Linked DNA regions of Homo sapiens. The protein of the gene in region 2 purifies or fractionates together with the protein of the main gene of each other region. This does not show direct contact. Each region holds a gene or a part of one and is shown on either strand. Other genes may lie near its edges.

What was found.
Region 1: the proteins of NUP160 (region 2) and SEH1L fractionate together in Homo sapiens (co-fractionation; 3 studies listed by BioGRID and IntAct, with this or other methods). This does not show direct contact.

The regions. Positions count from the first base shown.
Region 1 is NC_000018.10:12,950,394-12,959,073, reverse strand, and holds part of SEH1L (nucleoporin SEH1), read right to left. Parts: intron 7,220-8,680; coding exon 7,169-7,219; intron 3,612-7,168; coding exon 3,465-3,611; intron 1-3,464. UniProt on the Homo sapiens protein: Component of the Nup107-160 subcomplex of the nuclear pore complex (NPC). The Nup107-160 subcomplex is required for the assembly of a functional NPC.
Region 2 is NC_000011.10:47,809,400-47,818,079, reverse strand, and holds part of NUP160 (nuclear pore complex protein Nup160), read left to right. Parts: coding exon 1-24; intron 25-2,050; coding exon 2,051-2,134; intron 2,135-2,430; coding exon 2,431-2,601; intron 2,602-4,664; coding exon 4,665-4,764; intron 4,765-5,032; coding exon 5,033-5,198; exon of another isoform or gene 5,199-5,213; intron 5,214-5,650; coding exon 5,651-5,778; intron 5,779-5,855; coding exon 5,856-6,016; intron 6,017-8,680. UniProt on the Homo sapiens protein: Functions as a component of the nuclear pore complex (NPC). Involved in poly(A)+ RNA transport.

The DNA.
Region 1 (8,680 bases), on a different chromosome or scaffold from region 2:
CCACAATGGAGATGCCACTTCACAACACAGTCACTAGGATGGCTACAATAAATAGCACCACAACAAGTGCTGATGAAGATTTGGAAAAACTGGAACCCTTGAGCATTGCTGGTAGGAATGTAAAATGGTGTAGCTGCTATGGAAAAGTCTGACAGTTCCTAAAAACGTGAAACATAGAACTACCATATGAGCCAGCAATTCTACTCCTAGGTATATTTCCAAAAGAATCGAAAGCACGGTCTCAAACATTTATCTGTACAACAATGCTCATAGTAGCAGTATTCACAATAGCCACGAAGTAGAAACAACCCAAGGGTCCATCTACAAATGAATGGATAAACAAAATGTGGTATACACACACAATGGAATATTACTCAGCCATAAAAAGGAATAAAGTTAATATATGCTACAAAATGGACAGACCATGAAAACATTTTACTTAGTGAAATAAGCCAGTTGCAAATGGACAAATACTGTGATTCCACTTACATGCAGTACCTAGTCAAATTTATAGACAGACAGTTGAATAGGGGGTAGAGGGAGGAGGAAGGGGGAGGCATTCTTTAAAAATATGGAGTTTATGTTGGCAGTGATGAACAGTTTTGAGTACAGATAACAGTGATGGGTACACAGCACTGTGAACGTAATTAATTCTACTGAATTATACCATTTACAAATAGTTAAAATGGGCCAGGCATGGTGGCTCACGCCTGTAATCCCAGCACTTCAGGAGGCCAAGGCAGGAGAATCATTTGAGATCAGGAGTTCGTGACCAGCCTGACCAACATGGTGAAACCCTGTCTCTTCTAAAAACACAAAAAAATTAGCCAGGCATGGTGGCACATGCCTGTAGTCCCAGCTACTCAGGAGACTGAGGCAGGAAAATCGCTTGAACCCCGGAGGCGGAGAATGCAGTAAGCCGAGATCCCACCACTGCACTCCAGCCTGGGTGACAGAACAAGACTCTGTCTCAAAAAAAAAAAAAAAAAAAAAAAAAAAAAAAAAAAAAGTTAAAATGAGGAATATTATGTTATACATATTTTACCACAATAAAAAATTGCATCATGGCCCTCGTAGTGGCTCACGCCTATAATCACAGCACTTTGGGAGGCCGAGGTGAGAGGATTGCTTCAGTCCAGGAGTTCAAGACCAGCCTGGGCAACATGGTGAAACCCCATCTCTACAAAATAAAAAAATCAGCCTGTGGTGCATGCCTGTGATCCCAGCTACTTGTGGGGCTAAGGTGGGAGGATCACTTGAGCCCAGGAGGTTGAGACTGCAATGAGCTGTGACTGGCTCTAACGTAGTATCATGCCATTAGGGAGGGCAGGTGAGGGGTAATAGCAGGACACTCCCACTACACACTTCCTTTTGTTTCTTTTGAATTTTACACCATGTGCATGATTATCTATTACAAAAAACAAATCATAAAGGGGGAAAAAAAGCATGCAGATGATAATACCTTCATATGAAAATGCTGGAAAGAGTCTTAAATATAATCTAGTTCAATGTTTTCACTTTATAGATGAGGAACTTCAACAGCACACAGATTATATTATGTTCTTGCCCAAATTCAAACATCCAATAAGGCAAAGACAGCGATAAAAGCAGATGTAGATAAAGGAGAGTGTATTTTTTTTTTTTTGAGACGAAGTCTCGCTCTTGTTCCCCAGGCTGGAGTGCAATGGCACGATCTCTGCTCATCACAACCTCCGCCTCCCGGGTTCAAGCGATTCTCCTGCCTCAGCCTCCTGAGTAGCTGGGATTACAGGCATGTGCCACCATGCTCAGCTAATTTTTGTATTTTTAGTAGAGGGGGAGTTTCTCCATGTTGGTCAGGCTGGTCTCAAACTCCTGACCTCAGGTGATCTGTCCATTTTGGCCTCCTAAAGTGCTGGGATTATAGGCGTGAGCCACCGCACCCGGCCGAGGACAGTATATTTCCTAAGAAAACAAAAGTAACCACAAAACAAAAGAAACAATTTTTATAGAATTTTTTTTTTTTTTGAGACAAGTCTCGCTCCGTCGCCCAGGCTGGAGTGCAGTGGCGTGATCTCGGCTCACTGCAAGCTCCGCCTCCCGGGTTCACACCATTCTCCTGCCTCAGCCTCCAGAGTAGCTGGGACTTACAGGCACCCACCACCATGCCGGGCTAATTTTTTGTATTTTTAGTAGAGACAGGGTTTCACCATGTTAGCCATGTTATTTATTTTATTAGGTGGGTATTTTCTGTAGAAAGAATTTGCAAGTAAAATGGTGGACTTACAGAATCTTTGTTTCAAAGGTTGGTTACGCTAAACTCTGAAGCAACTCTCCAACTATCAGCACTGGAAGTAGTCAAGTTTATCTGGCTAGATTTTTCTTTTATTAGTAAAATGTCAGAAGAACTGGACTTCAGAAGCATTACAATCCTAAATATAGAATGTCTTCTAAAGGTTAAAACATTCTGGAATTTAACTTTTTATTTACATGTTATGTTGATCAGTTTTCTTCTCTCATAGAAGTAAAACTATATTCTGTTTCCTGATGTAAAACCAGTGTTTATGAAATATGAATAAGTATTTAGGAAAAAAGAAGCCCTGGGATAATGAGTATCTGTTCTTTTCTTTTTTTTTTTTTGATTCCCCAGACACACAGTGGATCTGTATGGCGTGTGACATGGGCCCATCCTGAATTTGGCCCATTAAATTTATTTAAATTTAAATAAAATTTAAAGAATTTTATTAACCCTTGGCCAGGCGTGGTGGCTCACGCCTGTAATCCCAGCACTTTGGGAGGCCGACAGGCAGATCACGAGGTCAGGAGATCGAGACCATCCTGGCTAGCACAGTGAAACCCCGTCTCTACTAAAAATGCAAAAAATTAGATGGGCGTGGTGGCGGGCGCCTGTAGTCCCAGCTACTCAGGAGGCTGAGGTAGGAGAATGGCGTGAACCCGGGAGGCGGAGCTTGCAGTGAGCCAAGATTGTGCCACTGCACTCCAGCCTGGGTGACACAGTGAGACTCCGTCTAAAAAAAAAAAAAAGAATTTTATTAACCCTTAAGAGTTTAAAGTTAAAAAAAAAAAAGAATTTTAGAGTTAGGCACAGTGGCTCATGCCTATAATCTCAGCAACTCAGGAGGCTGAGGTGGGGCCAGGAGTTTGAGACTGCAGTGAGCCAGAATACTTTAAAATCATATATTACTATCATAAAATATACTAATAGGTAAAATCAAATACAATGCAAATATTCTGGATTCATCATAAAAGTTATAAACAATGCAGTGATGCTCCTAAGTATTGCTTCAGACCCAAGTTAAAATGAAATAAAAAAGGAAGAAAAAAACATGGAAGAAAGAACTTTAGAACTGGTAAAACTAGAGGGGAGTGGTGATATTTTACCAATTATCTGAGGTAGCCTTCGGATGAATGCTCCTTGGCTGCTCATGTCTTCCCGGTCCCCAGAATACTAATAAATGTCTCACCCAGTGGCTCTGTCCTCGCAGTTTATCATTTGATTCTCCTACTATTTCTTCCCATACAGCAGCTGTTCGGTCAAAAGAACAGGAAGCCAAAACCTGCCCAAATTCAGGATGGGCCCATGTCACACGCCATACAGATCCACTATGTGTCTGGGGAATCAAAAAAAAAAAAGAAAAGAACAGATACTCATTATCCCAGGGCTTCTTTTTTCCTAAATACTTATTCATATTTCATAAACACTGGTTTTACATCAGGAAACAGAATATAGTTTTACTTCTATGAGAGAAGAAAACTGATCAACATAACATGTAAATAAAAAGTTAAATTCCAGAATGTTTTAACCTTTAGAAGACATTCTATATTTAGGATTGTAATGCTTCTGAAGTCCAGTTCTTCTGACATTTTACTAATAAAAGAAAAATCTAGCCAGATAAACTTGACTACTTCCAGTGCTGATAGTTGGAGAGTTGCTTCAGAGTTTAGCGTAACCAACCTTTGAAACAAAGATTCTGTAAGTCCACCATTTTACTTGCAAATTCTTTCTACAGAAAATACCCACCTAATAAAATAAATAACATTAGATTTATTTGCTCCAAAATCCATACAGACAGAAAGTAGATTAGTGGTTACCAGCGGCTGGGAGCAGAGTAAACAAGAAGTGACTGCTAAATGAGCACAGGGTTTCCTTTAGAGGTGGTAAACAATGTTCTGAAATTAGAAGTGGTGGTGGTTGCCAATTAAATGAATATACTTAAAATCACTAAATTGTACACTTTAAATGGGTGCACATTATGATATGTAAATTATAGCTCAATCAAAAAAATACTTTTTTTTCATTTGATTCAACCAGGCATAGTGGCTCACGCCTGTCTTCTCAGCCCTTTAGGGGGCTGAGGTGGGCAGACTGCTTGAGCCCAGGGGTTCAAGACCAGTCTGGGCAATATGGCAAAATGCCATCACTACAAAAAATACAAAAAATTAGTCAGGTGTGGTGGTATGCACTTACGGTCCCAGCTGCTTGGGAGGCTGAGGTGGGAGGATCACTTCAGCCTGGAAGGTTGAGGCTGCAGTAAGCCAAGATTGTGCCACTGCACTCCAGCCTGGGTGACAGAGCAAGAACTTGTCTCCAAAAAAAAATTATTTGCTTCAAAAGTCTAACAATATATAGAGATTATAGCCATAGAATGCTTAAATGATTTTAACTGACAATACAGTCTATCGATAACAGACTATTGTAGGAAGAGCAAATATGGGGAAGCCCAAATCCTTACACCCCTCCTGTTGGCCAAGGGGTGGGAGGGGAGGTGGCTGGAGAAGGGATACAAAGGTCTTAAAGAATTTCACCATCAAAAGAATTTGCTAGGTGCTTCTCAGGGAAAATACTGTATAATAACAAATAACATTCAGAAAATGTGTTTCACACTGTATAGCTAACATTTTTTACATTCAACAACATAAAAATAGTTTAACCAATAACTTCTACATGGTAACAATGTCACCAACTAAAGGTACATTTTGCACCCTTTTTTTTTAACCTTGTTTTGTCCAGTCTTTTCTGTATCATCTTTAATTCTTACTTATACAGGGCTATAAAATTAAAAATGCACACTAAGGCAGATAAGTTTTATTAGATTTACAGTAAAATGCAATCTAAAGAATAAGGTTTGCACAAAGATGCTCATCACAATAAAATGGAAACTGAAATATCCACTAGTTAAGCAAAATGGTATATTTATTGGCTGTTAATAAAAAGCCTTTAAAGATATAGAAAAGTACATATGAAATATATTAGGCTTAAAAGCAAGAGATGGGGTTTCCTTTTGGAATAATAAAAATGTTTTAGAACTAGAAAAAGGTGGTAGTTACACAACACTGTAAATGAAGTAAATGCCAATTAATTGTTTACTCTGAAATTATTAATTTTATAAGTTAACCTCACCTTAAAAGGGGGGGGGACCTTGGATAGACCTTTCACAAAAGAAGATACATGAATGGTAAATAAGCATATGAAAAAATAATCAACATGAGGTATTAAGGAAATACAAATCAAAATCCAATGATTTTTGTGGTCACTTCTCAACTACTAAAATGGCTATAATAAAAAAGACAGATATTATCGAGTGTAGGTGAGGATGTAGAGAAACTGGAACCTCACACATGGCTGGTGGGCACAGCCACTTTGGAAGAGTTTCGCAGTTTCTTAGAAAGCTAAGTGCATATAGCCCATCAATTCCACTCCTACGCATCTATCCAAAAGAAATGAAAATATATGTCTACACAGACTTACATGGCACGTTCTTAACATTACTCATAACAGCCAAAAACAACAACTCAAATGTCCGTCAACTGGTGAACAGACAAACAAAACGTGGCAATATACATACAACGGACTACTCAGTATCAAAGGAACAAATTGACACATGACACAATATGGATGAACCTCAAAACATGCAAAGGGAAAGTGGCCAGACACAAAGGACTATGTATTTCAAAATTCCATTTCTATGAAATTTCTAGAAAGGATAAACCAGGCCAGGCATGGTGGCTCAAGCCTGTAATCCCAGCACTTTGGAAGGCCAAGGCGGGCGGATCACTTGAGGTCAGGAGTTCGAGACCAGCCTGGTCAACATAGTGAAACCCTGTCTCTACCAAAACTACAAAAATTAGCCGGGTGTGGTGGCATGCGCCTGTAATCCCAGCTACTCAGGAGGCTGAGGCAGGAGAATCGCTTGAACCCAGGAGGCAGAGGTTGCAACGAGCCAACATCGCACCACTGCACTCCAGCCTGGGCGACAGAGCAAGACGCCAGCTCAAAAAAAAAAAAAAAGAAAAGAAGAGAAGAGAGGGTGGGAGGGGAGGGGAGAGGGAGGGCAGAGGAGAGAAGAAACCTATGGAGACAGAAAATGGATCAGTGGTTGCCTGGGGCTTGGAGTGGGAATAGGATACAAAGGAATTTCTGAGTTTGAGAGAAAAGTTCTAAAACTGGATTACAGTGATGACTACACAACTATGTAAGTTTACTAAAACTCACTGAACTGTACATTTAAAATGGATGACTTTTAAGGTATGAAAATTTCTACTTGGCCGGGCACAGTGGCTCATGCCTATAAACCCAGCACTTTGGGAGGCCGAGGGAGGATCACCTGAGGTCAGGAGTTTGAGACCAGCCTGGCCAACATGGCGAAACCCCATCTCTGCTAAAAACACAAAAATTAGCCGGGCATCGTGGTGCACGCCTACAGTCCCAGCTACTTGGGAGGCTGAGGCAGAAGAATCACTTGAACCCAACAGGCGGAGGTTGCAGTGAGCCAAGATCACGCCACTGCACTCCCACCTGGGCAAGAGAGCAAGACTCTCCGTCTCAAAAAAAAAAAAAAAAGAAAATTTCTACTTGAGTAAAGGTTTTGTTTTTTTTTTTTAAGAGAAAACTATGTATGAAACATCACAACAATTAAAATATGTAAAGGCAAAAGGAATATTCTGAATTACTAAGATAATTATGTTAGAATGCTACAGAATTACAGATTTTCTTACTCTCAAATTCTGAGAAACACAGTTGTTACTTTAATAGCGAAAAACAGTAAAATGTCTTCCCAGGAAAAGAACTACTGTATAAATGTTATTTTCTCAAAACAATTCATAGATAACTATAAAATAAACAGTAAATATTTCTGTATTTTTAATAAATGTAAAAATAAATACTAACCTTCCAGCTAGCAGTACAATGCCAATCACCACTTTCACTTTTATCCCAGACCTATAAGAAAATAAAAGGCAGATATTTTATACAAAAATTCCTACAAATTGATACAAAAACTATAAGACTGAATCAGTGTACAAGGAAAGCGGTGAACATATAGTTAACAAAAGAACACAATCAGCAAGTAAACATTCATTCATTCAATTAAGTATTTATTGAGAGGCTGGGTGCGATGGCTCATGCCTGTAATCCCAGCACTTTGGGAGGCCAAGGCAAACGGATCACCTGAGGTCAGGAGTTCGAGACCAGCCTAGACAACGTGGTGAAACCCCGTCTCTACTAAAAATACAAAAATTAGCCAGGCATGGTGCCGCATGCCTATAGTCCCAGCTACTAGGGAGGCTGAGGCAAGACAATCGTTTGAACCCCAGAGGCGGAGGTCGCAGTGAGCTGACATCACGCCACTGCACTCCAGCCTGGGAGACAAAGCAAGACTCCGTCTCAAAAAATTTACATTGAGAACCTTGAATGTGTCAAGCACTGGGCCAAGCACCAAGGGATTCAGGAAGCTGAGCTCTATTAGGTAACAGAGACAATTAGTTACAGTCACTACGCTTGGAGGCCATTTTAAACAGCAAAATCACCAACAGAAAGAACAAATAATCATTGCACTAAATAAATCATGAAAAACACCTGCTTACAGTATGAGCCAAAATAGAGTATCGCCTGGTTTCACCTCAATGGGAAACGTCTGTCCTGAGACTCAAACTTTTTCACCACTCCTCACACATGCACAAATGACTGCAAAACCAGTGTGACTTTTGGGGTACAAGTAAATTTCAGAGTAGACAAATTCAAAAAATACAGAATCTACAAACAACAGGCTCAACTGTACATGTAACAAATGGTAAAGCAAAAATATTGAAACCAGGCATGGTGGTGCACACCTGTAGTCCCAGCTACTCAAGAGGCTGAGGCAGGAGGGATTACTTGAGCCCAGGAGTTTAAGGCTATGATCACGCCCGTGAATAGCCACTGCACTCCAGCCTGGGCAACATGGCAAGACTCCATCTCAAAACAAAAAAATTAAACCTTATTACCCAGAAAAAATATAGATTACAATAAGAAGGTGCCAATTTCACCTGTTAAAAATGTAACGAGGGCAATAACACTATCAAATCAATACTATCACTGGCGGTATAAAACGGTACGACCTGCAAAATAGCAATTTGTCAATTCTCTTCAATAGTGTTTAAAATATCCACTAATTTATCTTCTAGAATTAGCCTAAGAAAATCATTCAAAATACATAAAATGCTAAACTAATGAAAAATTTCAGTACAACACTATTTCTGACAAGACATATACGTATATACACACACTCTACCATGACAACTTAAAACGTTAAAGGAAAAACAGAGGAAATCAATAAATATTAACACATTAGCAATAAGTCTATAATTTTTTCACTTTCTAAAAAGAAAAATATATTACTTGCTCAATTAAAAATATATACAA
Region 2 (8,680 bases):
GAAGCTTTATGTAAGGCTTTACAGGTCAGCAAAAAAAATTTACTGTTTGTTTAAGACTATTTCTTATTTTATTACTGTATATAATTACTATTAAGTTTTTGCATATATTAAACACTGAATGTACTTCTGTATTCATACATATGTGTGTTTGTAAATACTTTTATAATTTTTTTAATGTTCTTTCCATTAAATACAGTATTCATGGTGGAGAGGTTGGAGGGGGGACCACTTTCCCAGTAATCAGTGACACATGCCAGAGTTAGAAAGAGAAACCTCTACCTACAGTACTGTAAAAAGATACCATACTGCACTGTATAGAATCTCTGTACTTGAGAGAAACTTAAAGTGGTTTTTTGTTTAGTTTTGGTTATACTGTTTTAACCTTTTTATTAGGACAGTGAAGGTCTGACTTGGTTCAGATTCAAGAAAACTCTAGGCCGGGCGTGGTGGCTCACGCCTGTAATCCCAGCACTTCGGGAGGCTGAGGCAGATGGATCACGGGGTCAAGAGATCGAGACCATCCTGGCCAACATGGTGAAACCCCGTCTCTACTAAAAATACAAAAATTAGCCGGGCGTGGTGGCACACGCCTATAGTCCCAGCTACTCGGGAGGCTGAGGCAGAAGAATTAATCTCTTGAACCCGGGAGGCAGAGGTTGCAGTGAGCCAAGATTGCGCCACTGCACTCCAAACTGGCGGCAGAGTGAGACTCTGTCTCAAAAAAAAAAAAAAAAAAAGTTTTTGGCTTCAAATTCATTGTATAAGAGAAGCCCAGTGCTTTACAAAAGGATTCTTTGGCCAACGGTAGTGACTCACACCTGTAATCCCAAAATTTTGGGAGGCTGAAGAGGGAAGATCACTTGAGCCCAGGAGTTTGAGAGCAGCCTGGGCAACAGAGGGAGACCCCATCTCTAAAAAAAATAATAATAATAGAAAAATAGCCAGGTGTGGTGGCATGCACCTGTGGTCCCAGCTACTCAGGAGCCCTAGGTTGGAGGACTGCTTTAGCCCAGGAGGTAAAGGGTATGGTGAGCCTTGATCATGCCACTGCATTCCAGCCTGGGAAACAGAGTGACACCCTATCTTAAAAAAAAAAAAAAAAACTGAAAGGATTTTTTAAGGTTACAAAGGCTTCTGGCTGGGTGCAGTGGCTCACACCTGTAATCTCAGCACTTTGGGAGGCCAAGGGGGTGGATTGCTTGAGCTCAGGAGTTCAAGACCAGCCTGGGTAACATGGCAAGATTCCCATCTCTATTAAAACAACAACAAAAAGTTACATAGACTTTTTTTTTTTTTTTCCCTTTGAGGCAGGGTCTCGCTCTGTTGCCCAGGCTGGAGTGCGGTGGCACGATCTTGGCTCACTGCAACCTCTGCCTCCTGGGTTCAAGTGATTCTCCTGCCTCAGCCTCCCAAGTAGCTGGGACTACAGACGCATGCCACCACACCCGGCTAATTTTTGTAGTTTTTAGTAGAGACAAGGTTTTGCCATATTGGCCAAGCTTGTCTCGAACTCCTGGCCTCAAATGATCCACCCGCCTCAGCCTCCCAAAGTGCTGGGATTATAGGCATGAGCCACCACACCCAGCTTGCATAGGCTTCTTTAAATTACTACTTAGCTTCATGGATGGATTTAAAATACAATAACTCATATAATTGAAAATTATATTAGAATATTTTAGACTGACCTCCCACATAAAACAGAAATGCCTTCTGAGGCTTTTGTGATAGTTATTCAGCCTTTAATTGTCTCTACCTCCACTGACCACTTTGTCACTACCTCTTGTGGGAGTTATTATTCCCAAACTGTGTCATTGAAAAGGAAGCCTCTCTTCTATAAATCAACCCTTCAAGTATTTTAAGAATCTTTCCAGGTCACCTTTCTCCAGACTAAATACACCCAGTTTCTTAACTTTCTCTTGGGTGATGTGTGTTCCAGGTATGCCAAATCTCTATTATATAGTTTTATATTGCCTCTATGTCTTCTAAACTGAAACGTTTTCCATTCAGTTTTGGCTATTATATAGAAGTCTAAAATGTCTTTTAATGTTAGATTTTCTGCCGAGGAACTGAGAGGAATTTGGATCTTTCCTGGAGTGAACTGAAGAAAGAAGTTACTTTAGCTGTTGAAAATGAGGTGAGGCTTGGGTAGAGAAAGAATAAGAATTCCTTCCATCTTGATATAGGGCAGATTGGTACTGACCGAGGAATTACTGGAATTCTTCACTTGACCTTGTTTGTTGGAACATATAAATGTTTAAACCTTTTAACTAGAGAATCAGATACACATTTGCATAGTCTATGGCCTTTAATACGTAAGGAATATTCATTTGGCTGTAGCTTAGTATAATGATATTGGACAATTATGTTTTTTGTGGACAAAGATCCTGAATGGCATCAAAAGTTTAATTTCTTTCATTTCTTCTTTGCCAGCTTCAAGGAAGTGTAACAGAGTATGAATTCTCCCAGGAGGAGTTTCGAAATTTACAACAAGAATTCTGGTGCAAGTTCTATGCCTGTTGTCTTCAGTATCAAGAAGCCCTCTCTCACCCTCTTGCCCTACATTTGAATCCACACACAAACATGGTGTGCCTGCTGAAAAAAGTAAGTGAGCTAAAGCATAGAGAAGACCTTCTTGAGACAGTTCAGTGGCTGTTATAACAAAATGCCTTCAGAAAACAAAAAGTTCAGTGGCTCTTGCCGAATGTTAGTCTGGTGAATGTTGCGGTTAGCATTTAGGACTTTGCATTTGTATTTTTTCCCCTAAAATTGTGATTCATTCATTTAAATAGTTTTCTGTGTTATTCTCTATACTTTTTTTGTATTTTATTGTATTTATTTCTTTTTCTTTTTTTCTCTTTTTTTGAGTTGGAGTCTTGCTCTGTCACCCAGGCTGGAGTGCAGTGGTGTGATCTCAGCTCACTGCAACCTCCGCCTCTGGGATTCAAGCAATTCTCCTGAGTACCTGGGACTACAGGTGTACACCATCACACCCGGCTAATTTTTGTATTTTTAGTAGAGGTGGGGTTTCATCATATTGGTCAGGTGGGTCTTGAACTCCTGTCCTTAGGTGATTCACCCGCCTCAGCCTCCCAAAGTGTTGGGATTACAGGCGTGGGCCACCACACCCGGCCTATTTACTTTTTATATTGAAGTAATTTCCAACTTAAGGTAAGAGTTACAAGAATAGCACAAAGAATTCCTGTATACCCTTCATCTGGATTCATCATTTGTTAACTTCCATATGCTTTTCTTCTTTCTCTAAACAGTTTTTCCTGAACTACTGAGAAGTTAGTTGTAGATATCATGCTCCTTTATCCTTAAATATCCTTAAATATTTCAGCATGTATCTAAGAACACAGATATTAAATAACCACAGCCCAATTTAAAAATCAGGTTATTTGATATTGACATAATATTATACAGCTTATATTCAAATTTTGCCAAATATAACATATATATATATATAGTTTATATTCAGATTTTGCCAATTGTGCCCATAATTTTTTTTCCTGATCCAGGATCCAATCTTTTTTTTTTTTTTGAGACAGTCTTGCTCTGTCGCCCAGGCTAGAGTCCAGTGGTGCAATCTCGGCTCACTGCAACCTCCGCCTACTGAGTTCAAGCGATTCTCCTGCCTATCCTCCAGAGTAGCTGGGATTATAGGCACGCGCCACCACACCTGGCTAGTTTTGTATTTTTAATAGAGACGGAGTTTCGCCATGTTGTGACCAGGCTGGTCTCAAATTCCTGGGCTCAGGTGATCCGCCCACCTTGGCCTCCCAAAGTCCAGGATCCAATCTAATATATGTATTTAGTTATTGTGTCTCTTTAGCTTAACCTCAAACTGTTATCAGCGTTTCTTTGTCTTTCATGAGAATGATGTTATTTGAAGACTATGCTTGTTTCTTTTTTTTGTTTGTTTGTTTGTTTGTTTGTTTGAGGCAGGGTCTTGCTGTGTCACCCAGGCTGCAGTACAGTGGCACTCTTTTTTTTTTTTTTTTTTTTTTTTGAGACAGAGTCTCGCTCTGTCACCCAGGCTGGAGTGCAGTGGCACGATCTCAACACACTGCAACCTCTGCCTCCTGGGTTTATGCCATTCTCCTGCCTCAGCCTCACCAGTAGCTGGGACTACAGGCGCCCGCCACCACACCTGGCTAATTTTTTGTATTTTTAGTAGAGACGGGGTTTCACCGTGTTAGCCAGGATGGTCTCGATCCCCTGACCTCGTGATCCACCCACTTCAGCCTCCCAAAGTGCTGGGATTACAGGCGTGAGCCACTGCGCCCGGCCCAGTGGCACTCTTAAGGCTCACTGCAGCTTCAACCTCCCAGGCTCAGGTGATCCTCCCACCCCAGCCTCCCTAGCAGCTAGAATTAAAGCTGTGTGCCACCACACTTGGCTAATTTTTTTTTTTTAGAGATGGGGTTTCATCATGATGCCCAGGCTGGTCTTGAACTCCTTGGCTCAAGTGATCCTCCCACCTCAGCCTCCCAAACTGCTGGGATCACAGATGTGAGCCACTGTGCCCAGCCAAGACTTACACCTATTATTTTATAGAGTGTATTGCAACTTGGGTTTGCCTCATGATAAGATGCACATCTCAATTATTTTATACCTTTAAAATTTTACTGACAAAAATGTAACTGGAAAATTTGTATTTCCAGGGGTACCTGTCTTTCCTTATTCCCTCATCCTTAGTGGATCATTTGTATCTCCTGCCTTATGAGAACCTTTTGACAGAAGATGAGACAACCATATCTGATGGTAATAGTAATTGTTATGTCCATATTTAATCCCCTTCCTATATAAACCCTATGCTTCGTTTCACATGGATACAAAAAATATCGATTGCCACACCTGTCTTGGTCACTTTACCACACCACAAATATTTTAATGAACACTTAAGAGACCAAAGCATCTCTGAGACCTCAGATAGATTTCTTGTCATTTAATTATTAACATTTTAATGTAATATCAATCAATAGATTGTCATTGGCTTAAGACATAAATGTTAACTTTCTCTTATTTGTAGATGTGGACATCGCTCGGGATGTCATATGTCTTATAAAATGCCTCCGGCTGATTGAAGAGTCAGTAACTGTGGATATGTCAGTTATAATGGAAATGAGTTGTTATAACCTACAGTCTCCGGAAAAGGCTGCAGAGCAGATTCTGGAAGATATGATCACTATTGATGTGTAAGGAGAATTAGGGTAAAGTGCATTTCCTAATGGAAATTCAGCATTTTTAGCGCCAAAGTTGGAATTTTAATGTATGTTCCAGAGCGTACAGAATAGTAGCTTAAAGTCAAACTGATGCGCCATGATTCTAAGTACATATTTCTACTTTTAACAGAAAATTTAACACGACTTCAAGTCTAGAAATAGACTTATAAAATATGCTTTAACAATTAACCGAGCTAAAAATTCTAAAAAGCAAAAGTGTTCTTCTCATGTTTGTTTTGTGTGTTGTTTATGAAAAACTGAGAGGAAATTTGCTATGCATAGGGACTGTATCTTATATGCCAGAGTGATTATCTTCATTCCTTTATCTGGTTCTCTTGTTTCATAATGTATTTAGCTTATAGGACATATAGAACTTGCCTTACGTATTCTCGGTAGTAATAAGAGTTTTGTAATTGTCCTTATAGAGAAAATGTGATGGAGGATATTTGTAGTAAACTGCAAGAGATTAGGAACCCAATCCATGCAATTGGACTACTTATACGGGAAATGGATTATGAAACAGAAGTGGAAATGGAAAAGGGATTCAATCCAGGTAAATGACAGAACAACAAATGTGCCTCTTTGATTAAAACAATGATGCATTCAACTCCATTTTTCTTCTTTTTACAGCTCAGCCTTTGAATATTCGAATGAATCTTACCCAGCTCTATGGTAGTAACACAGCAGGGTATATTGTGTGCAGAGGGGTGCATAAAATCGCCAGTACTCGTTTCCTGATCTGCAGAGATCTTTTGATCTTACAGCAGCTGTTAATGAGGCTTGGAGATGCTGTAAGTACTGCTTGAGGGAAAACTTGTAAAATCTAAAACCTGTTATAGGCCTACAAGCACTTAGGAGCAAAATGTCAGCCCTACTAGCACAGATACTTTTGTCTTGGTTCACTGCTTTATTCTCCCAAGCTTGGCCTTATGAGATGCTCTATAAATATTTTTGAATTAAGAATGAATAAGCATTGTAATCCTTGTGAGAGTATAGATTAAGAGCATATATGGAGGGGACGGTGGGGAGGGAGAACATCAGAAAGAATAGCTAATGGATCCTGGGCCTAATACTTAGGTGTTGGGTTGATCTGTGCAGCAAACCATCATGGCACACGTTTACCTACGTAACAAACCTGCACATCCTGCCCATGTACCCTGGAACTTAACAGTAGATTTTAAAAAACATACATGAAGCAGATTGCTTTACTCTTAACCTTTGTATGTGTAGTAGTGGAAAATTTTCCCAAGTTGGCTCTCCCAAAATGTAGTATTATTAGTAACTATGAATGTGGTAAGCATACCCTTTAGTATGGAGGAAGAAAAAGAAAACTCTTTTTTTTTCCTGTCTCTCTCTCTTTTTTTTTTTTTCTTGAGACAATCTTGCTCTGTTGCCCAGGCTGGAGTGTGGTGGCCTTATCTCAGCTCAAGCAATTCTCCTGCCTCAGCCTCCTGAGTAGCTGGGATTACAGGTGCGTGCCACCGTGTCCGGCTAATTTTTGTATTTTTAGTAGAGACAGGGTTTCACCATGTTGACCAGGCTGATCTTAAACTCCTGACATCAGGTGATCCACCTACCTCGGCCTCCCAAAGTGCTGGGATTACAGGCATGAGCCACCTTGCCCAACCTAAGAACTCTCTACAGTGCAAGGCTTACCCTAAACACAGTTTTGAGATGCAGGTTTATCTTTGTGGTCCTCCTAACTCTATTCTGTGCTTTCTTTTTCATTCTGTTCTTCTTAGACCACCAGACTCTTGTTGCTAATATATAGTCCTAATCACCCACCCTACTGAATGTCCCATGCTAAGAAATTATTTTTCTCCCCACAGTCAGACATCCCATTTTTTTCTAAGTCAGTAATCTCATTTGAGCCTGTCAAAGAAGGAATCTAATTAAACCAATTCATATTAATGTGTAAATAGCCAAAAGTCCTTTGGGGCTCCCATTTTAATTCTGACTTAAAATGTATAAATGTACTTATACATTTTAAGTCAGAATGTATTAACTCAGGCTGGGCACAGTGGCTCACACCTGTAATCCCAGCACTTTGCGAGGCTGAGGTGGGCAGATCACTTGAGGCCAGGAGTTCGAGACCAGCCTGGCCAACATGGCCAAACTCCATGTCTATTAAAACAAAAAAGTTAGCGGGGTCTGGTGGCACACTCCTGTAATCCCAGCCATTCAGGAGGCTAAGGCATGAGAATTACTTGAACCCAGGAGGCAGAGTTTGCAGTGAGGCAAGATTGCACCACTGCACTCCAGCGTGTGTGACAGAGCGAGATTCTGTCTCCAAAAAAAAAAAAAAAGAAATTATAAACCCAGATACATCGCTAATGGTAGAATTTCAAGCAAGAGTAAGAAAAAGGCCAGATGTGGTGGCTCATACCTATAGTCCCAGCACTTTGGGAGGCCAAGGTGGCCTGGTTGCTTGAGCCTAGAAGTTTGAGACCAGTCTGGGCAAACCCTCATCTCTACAAAAAAATACAAAAATTAGCCGGGCATGGTGCAGCAAGCCTGTAGTCCTTGCTACTTGGGAGGCTGAGATGGGAGAATTACCTGAGCCTGGGAGGTTGAGGCTGCAGTGAGCTGTGATTGCGCCATTGCACTTCTGCCTGCATGACAGAGTGAGACCCTATCTCAAAAAAAAGAAAAAAAAAATTGGGAAGATAATTTGTTTAAGATCACCAAGTTGAAAAATGAACCTTTCCTGAAAGTCTGTTAGGTTGGTTAGCCTTTACTAAGTTCTTTTTGATCTATGTAGATTCTTCCATTTTTTTCAGGTTTTTTGTTTTTTAAATTATAACTTTTGTCAATTTTTCTGAACACAGAAGTAATAAGATATTCATTGTAGAACCTTTACAAAATATATATAAGCAAAAATTTAAAAAATTTATAATTTTCTACCCAGTGATTACTACTTAAATTTTGCTATATACGTTTTTTTCCATGCACATTCTTTTTGGTTTGTTTGTGAAATTTAAATAAACTACATAGTATTTTTTGTAATCTGGTTGTTCTGTTCTTCCACTTTATAAATCTCAACATTTTTCTTTTTGTTGCCAGTTTTTCCTTTATGTCCATAATTTTCCGCACATCTTTTTTTTTTTTTTTTTTTTTTTTGAGAGTCTTGCTCTGTAGCCCAGGCTGGAGTGCAGTGGTGCAATCTGCAACCTCCGCCTCCTGGGTTCAAGAAATTCTCATATCTCAGCCTCCCAGGTAGCTGGGATTACAGATGCGCACCACTACACCAGCTAATTTTTATATTTTTAATAGAGATGGGGTTTCGCCATATTGGCCAGACTGGTCTCGAACTCCTGGCCTCAAGTGATCTGCCTGCCTCAGCCTCACAAAGTGCTGGGATTACAGGTGTCAACCACCGTGCCTGGCCACTTTCTGTACATCTTTAATTATATCTCTAGAATAAGTTCTAAAAACTAGAATTTGGTCTACAGGTA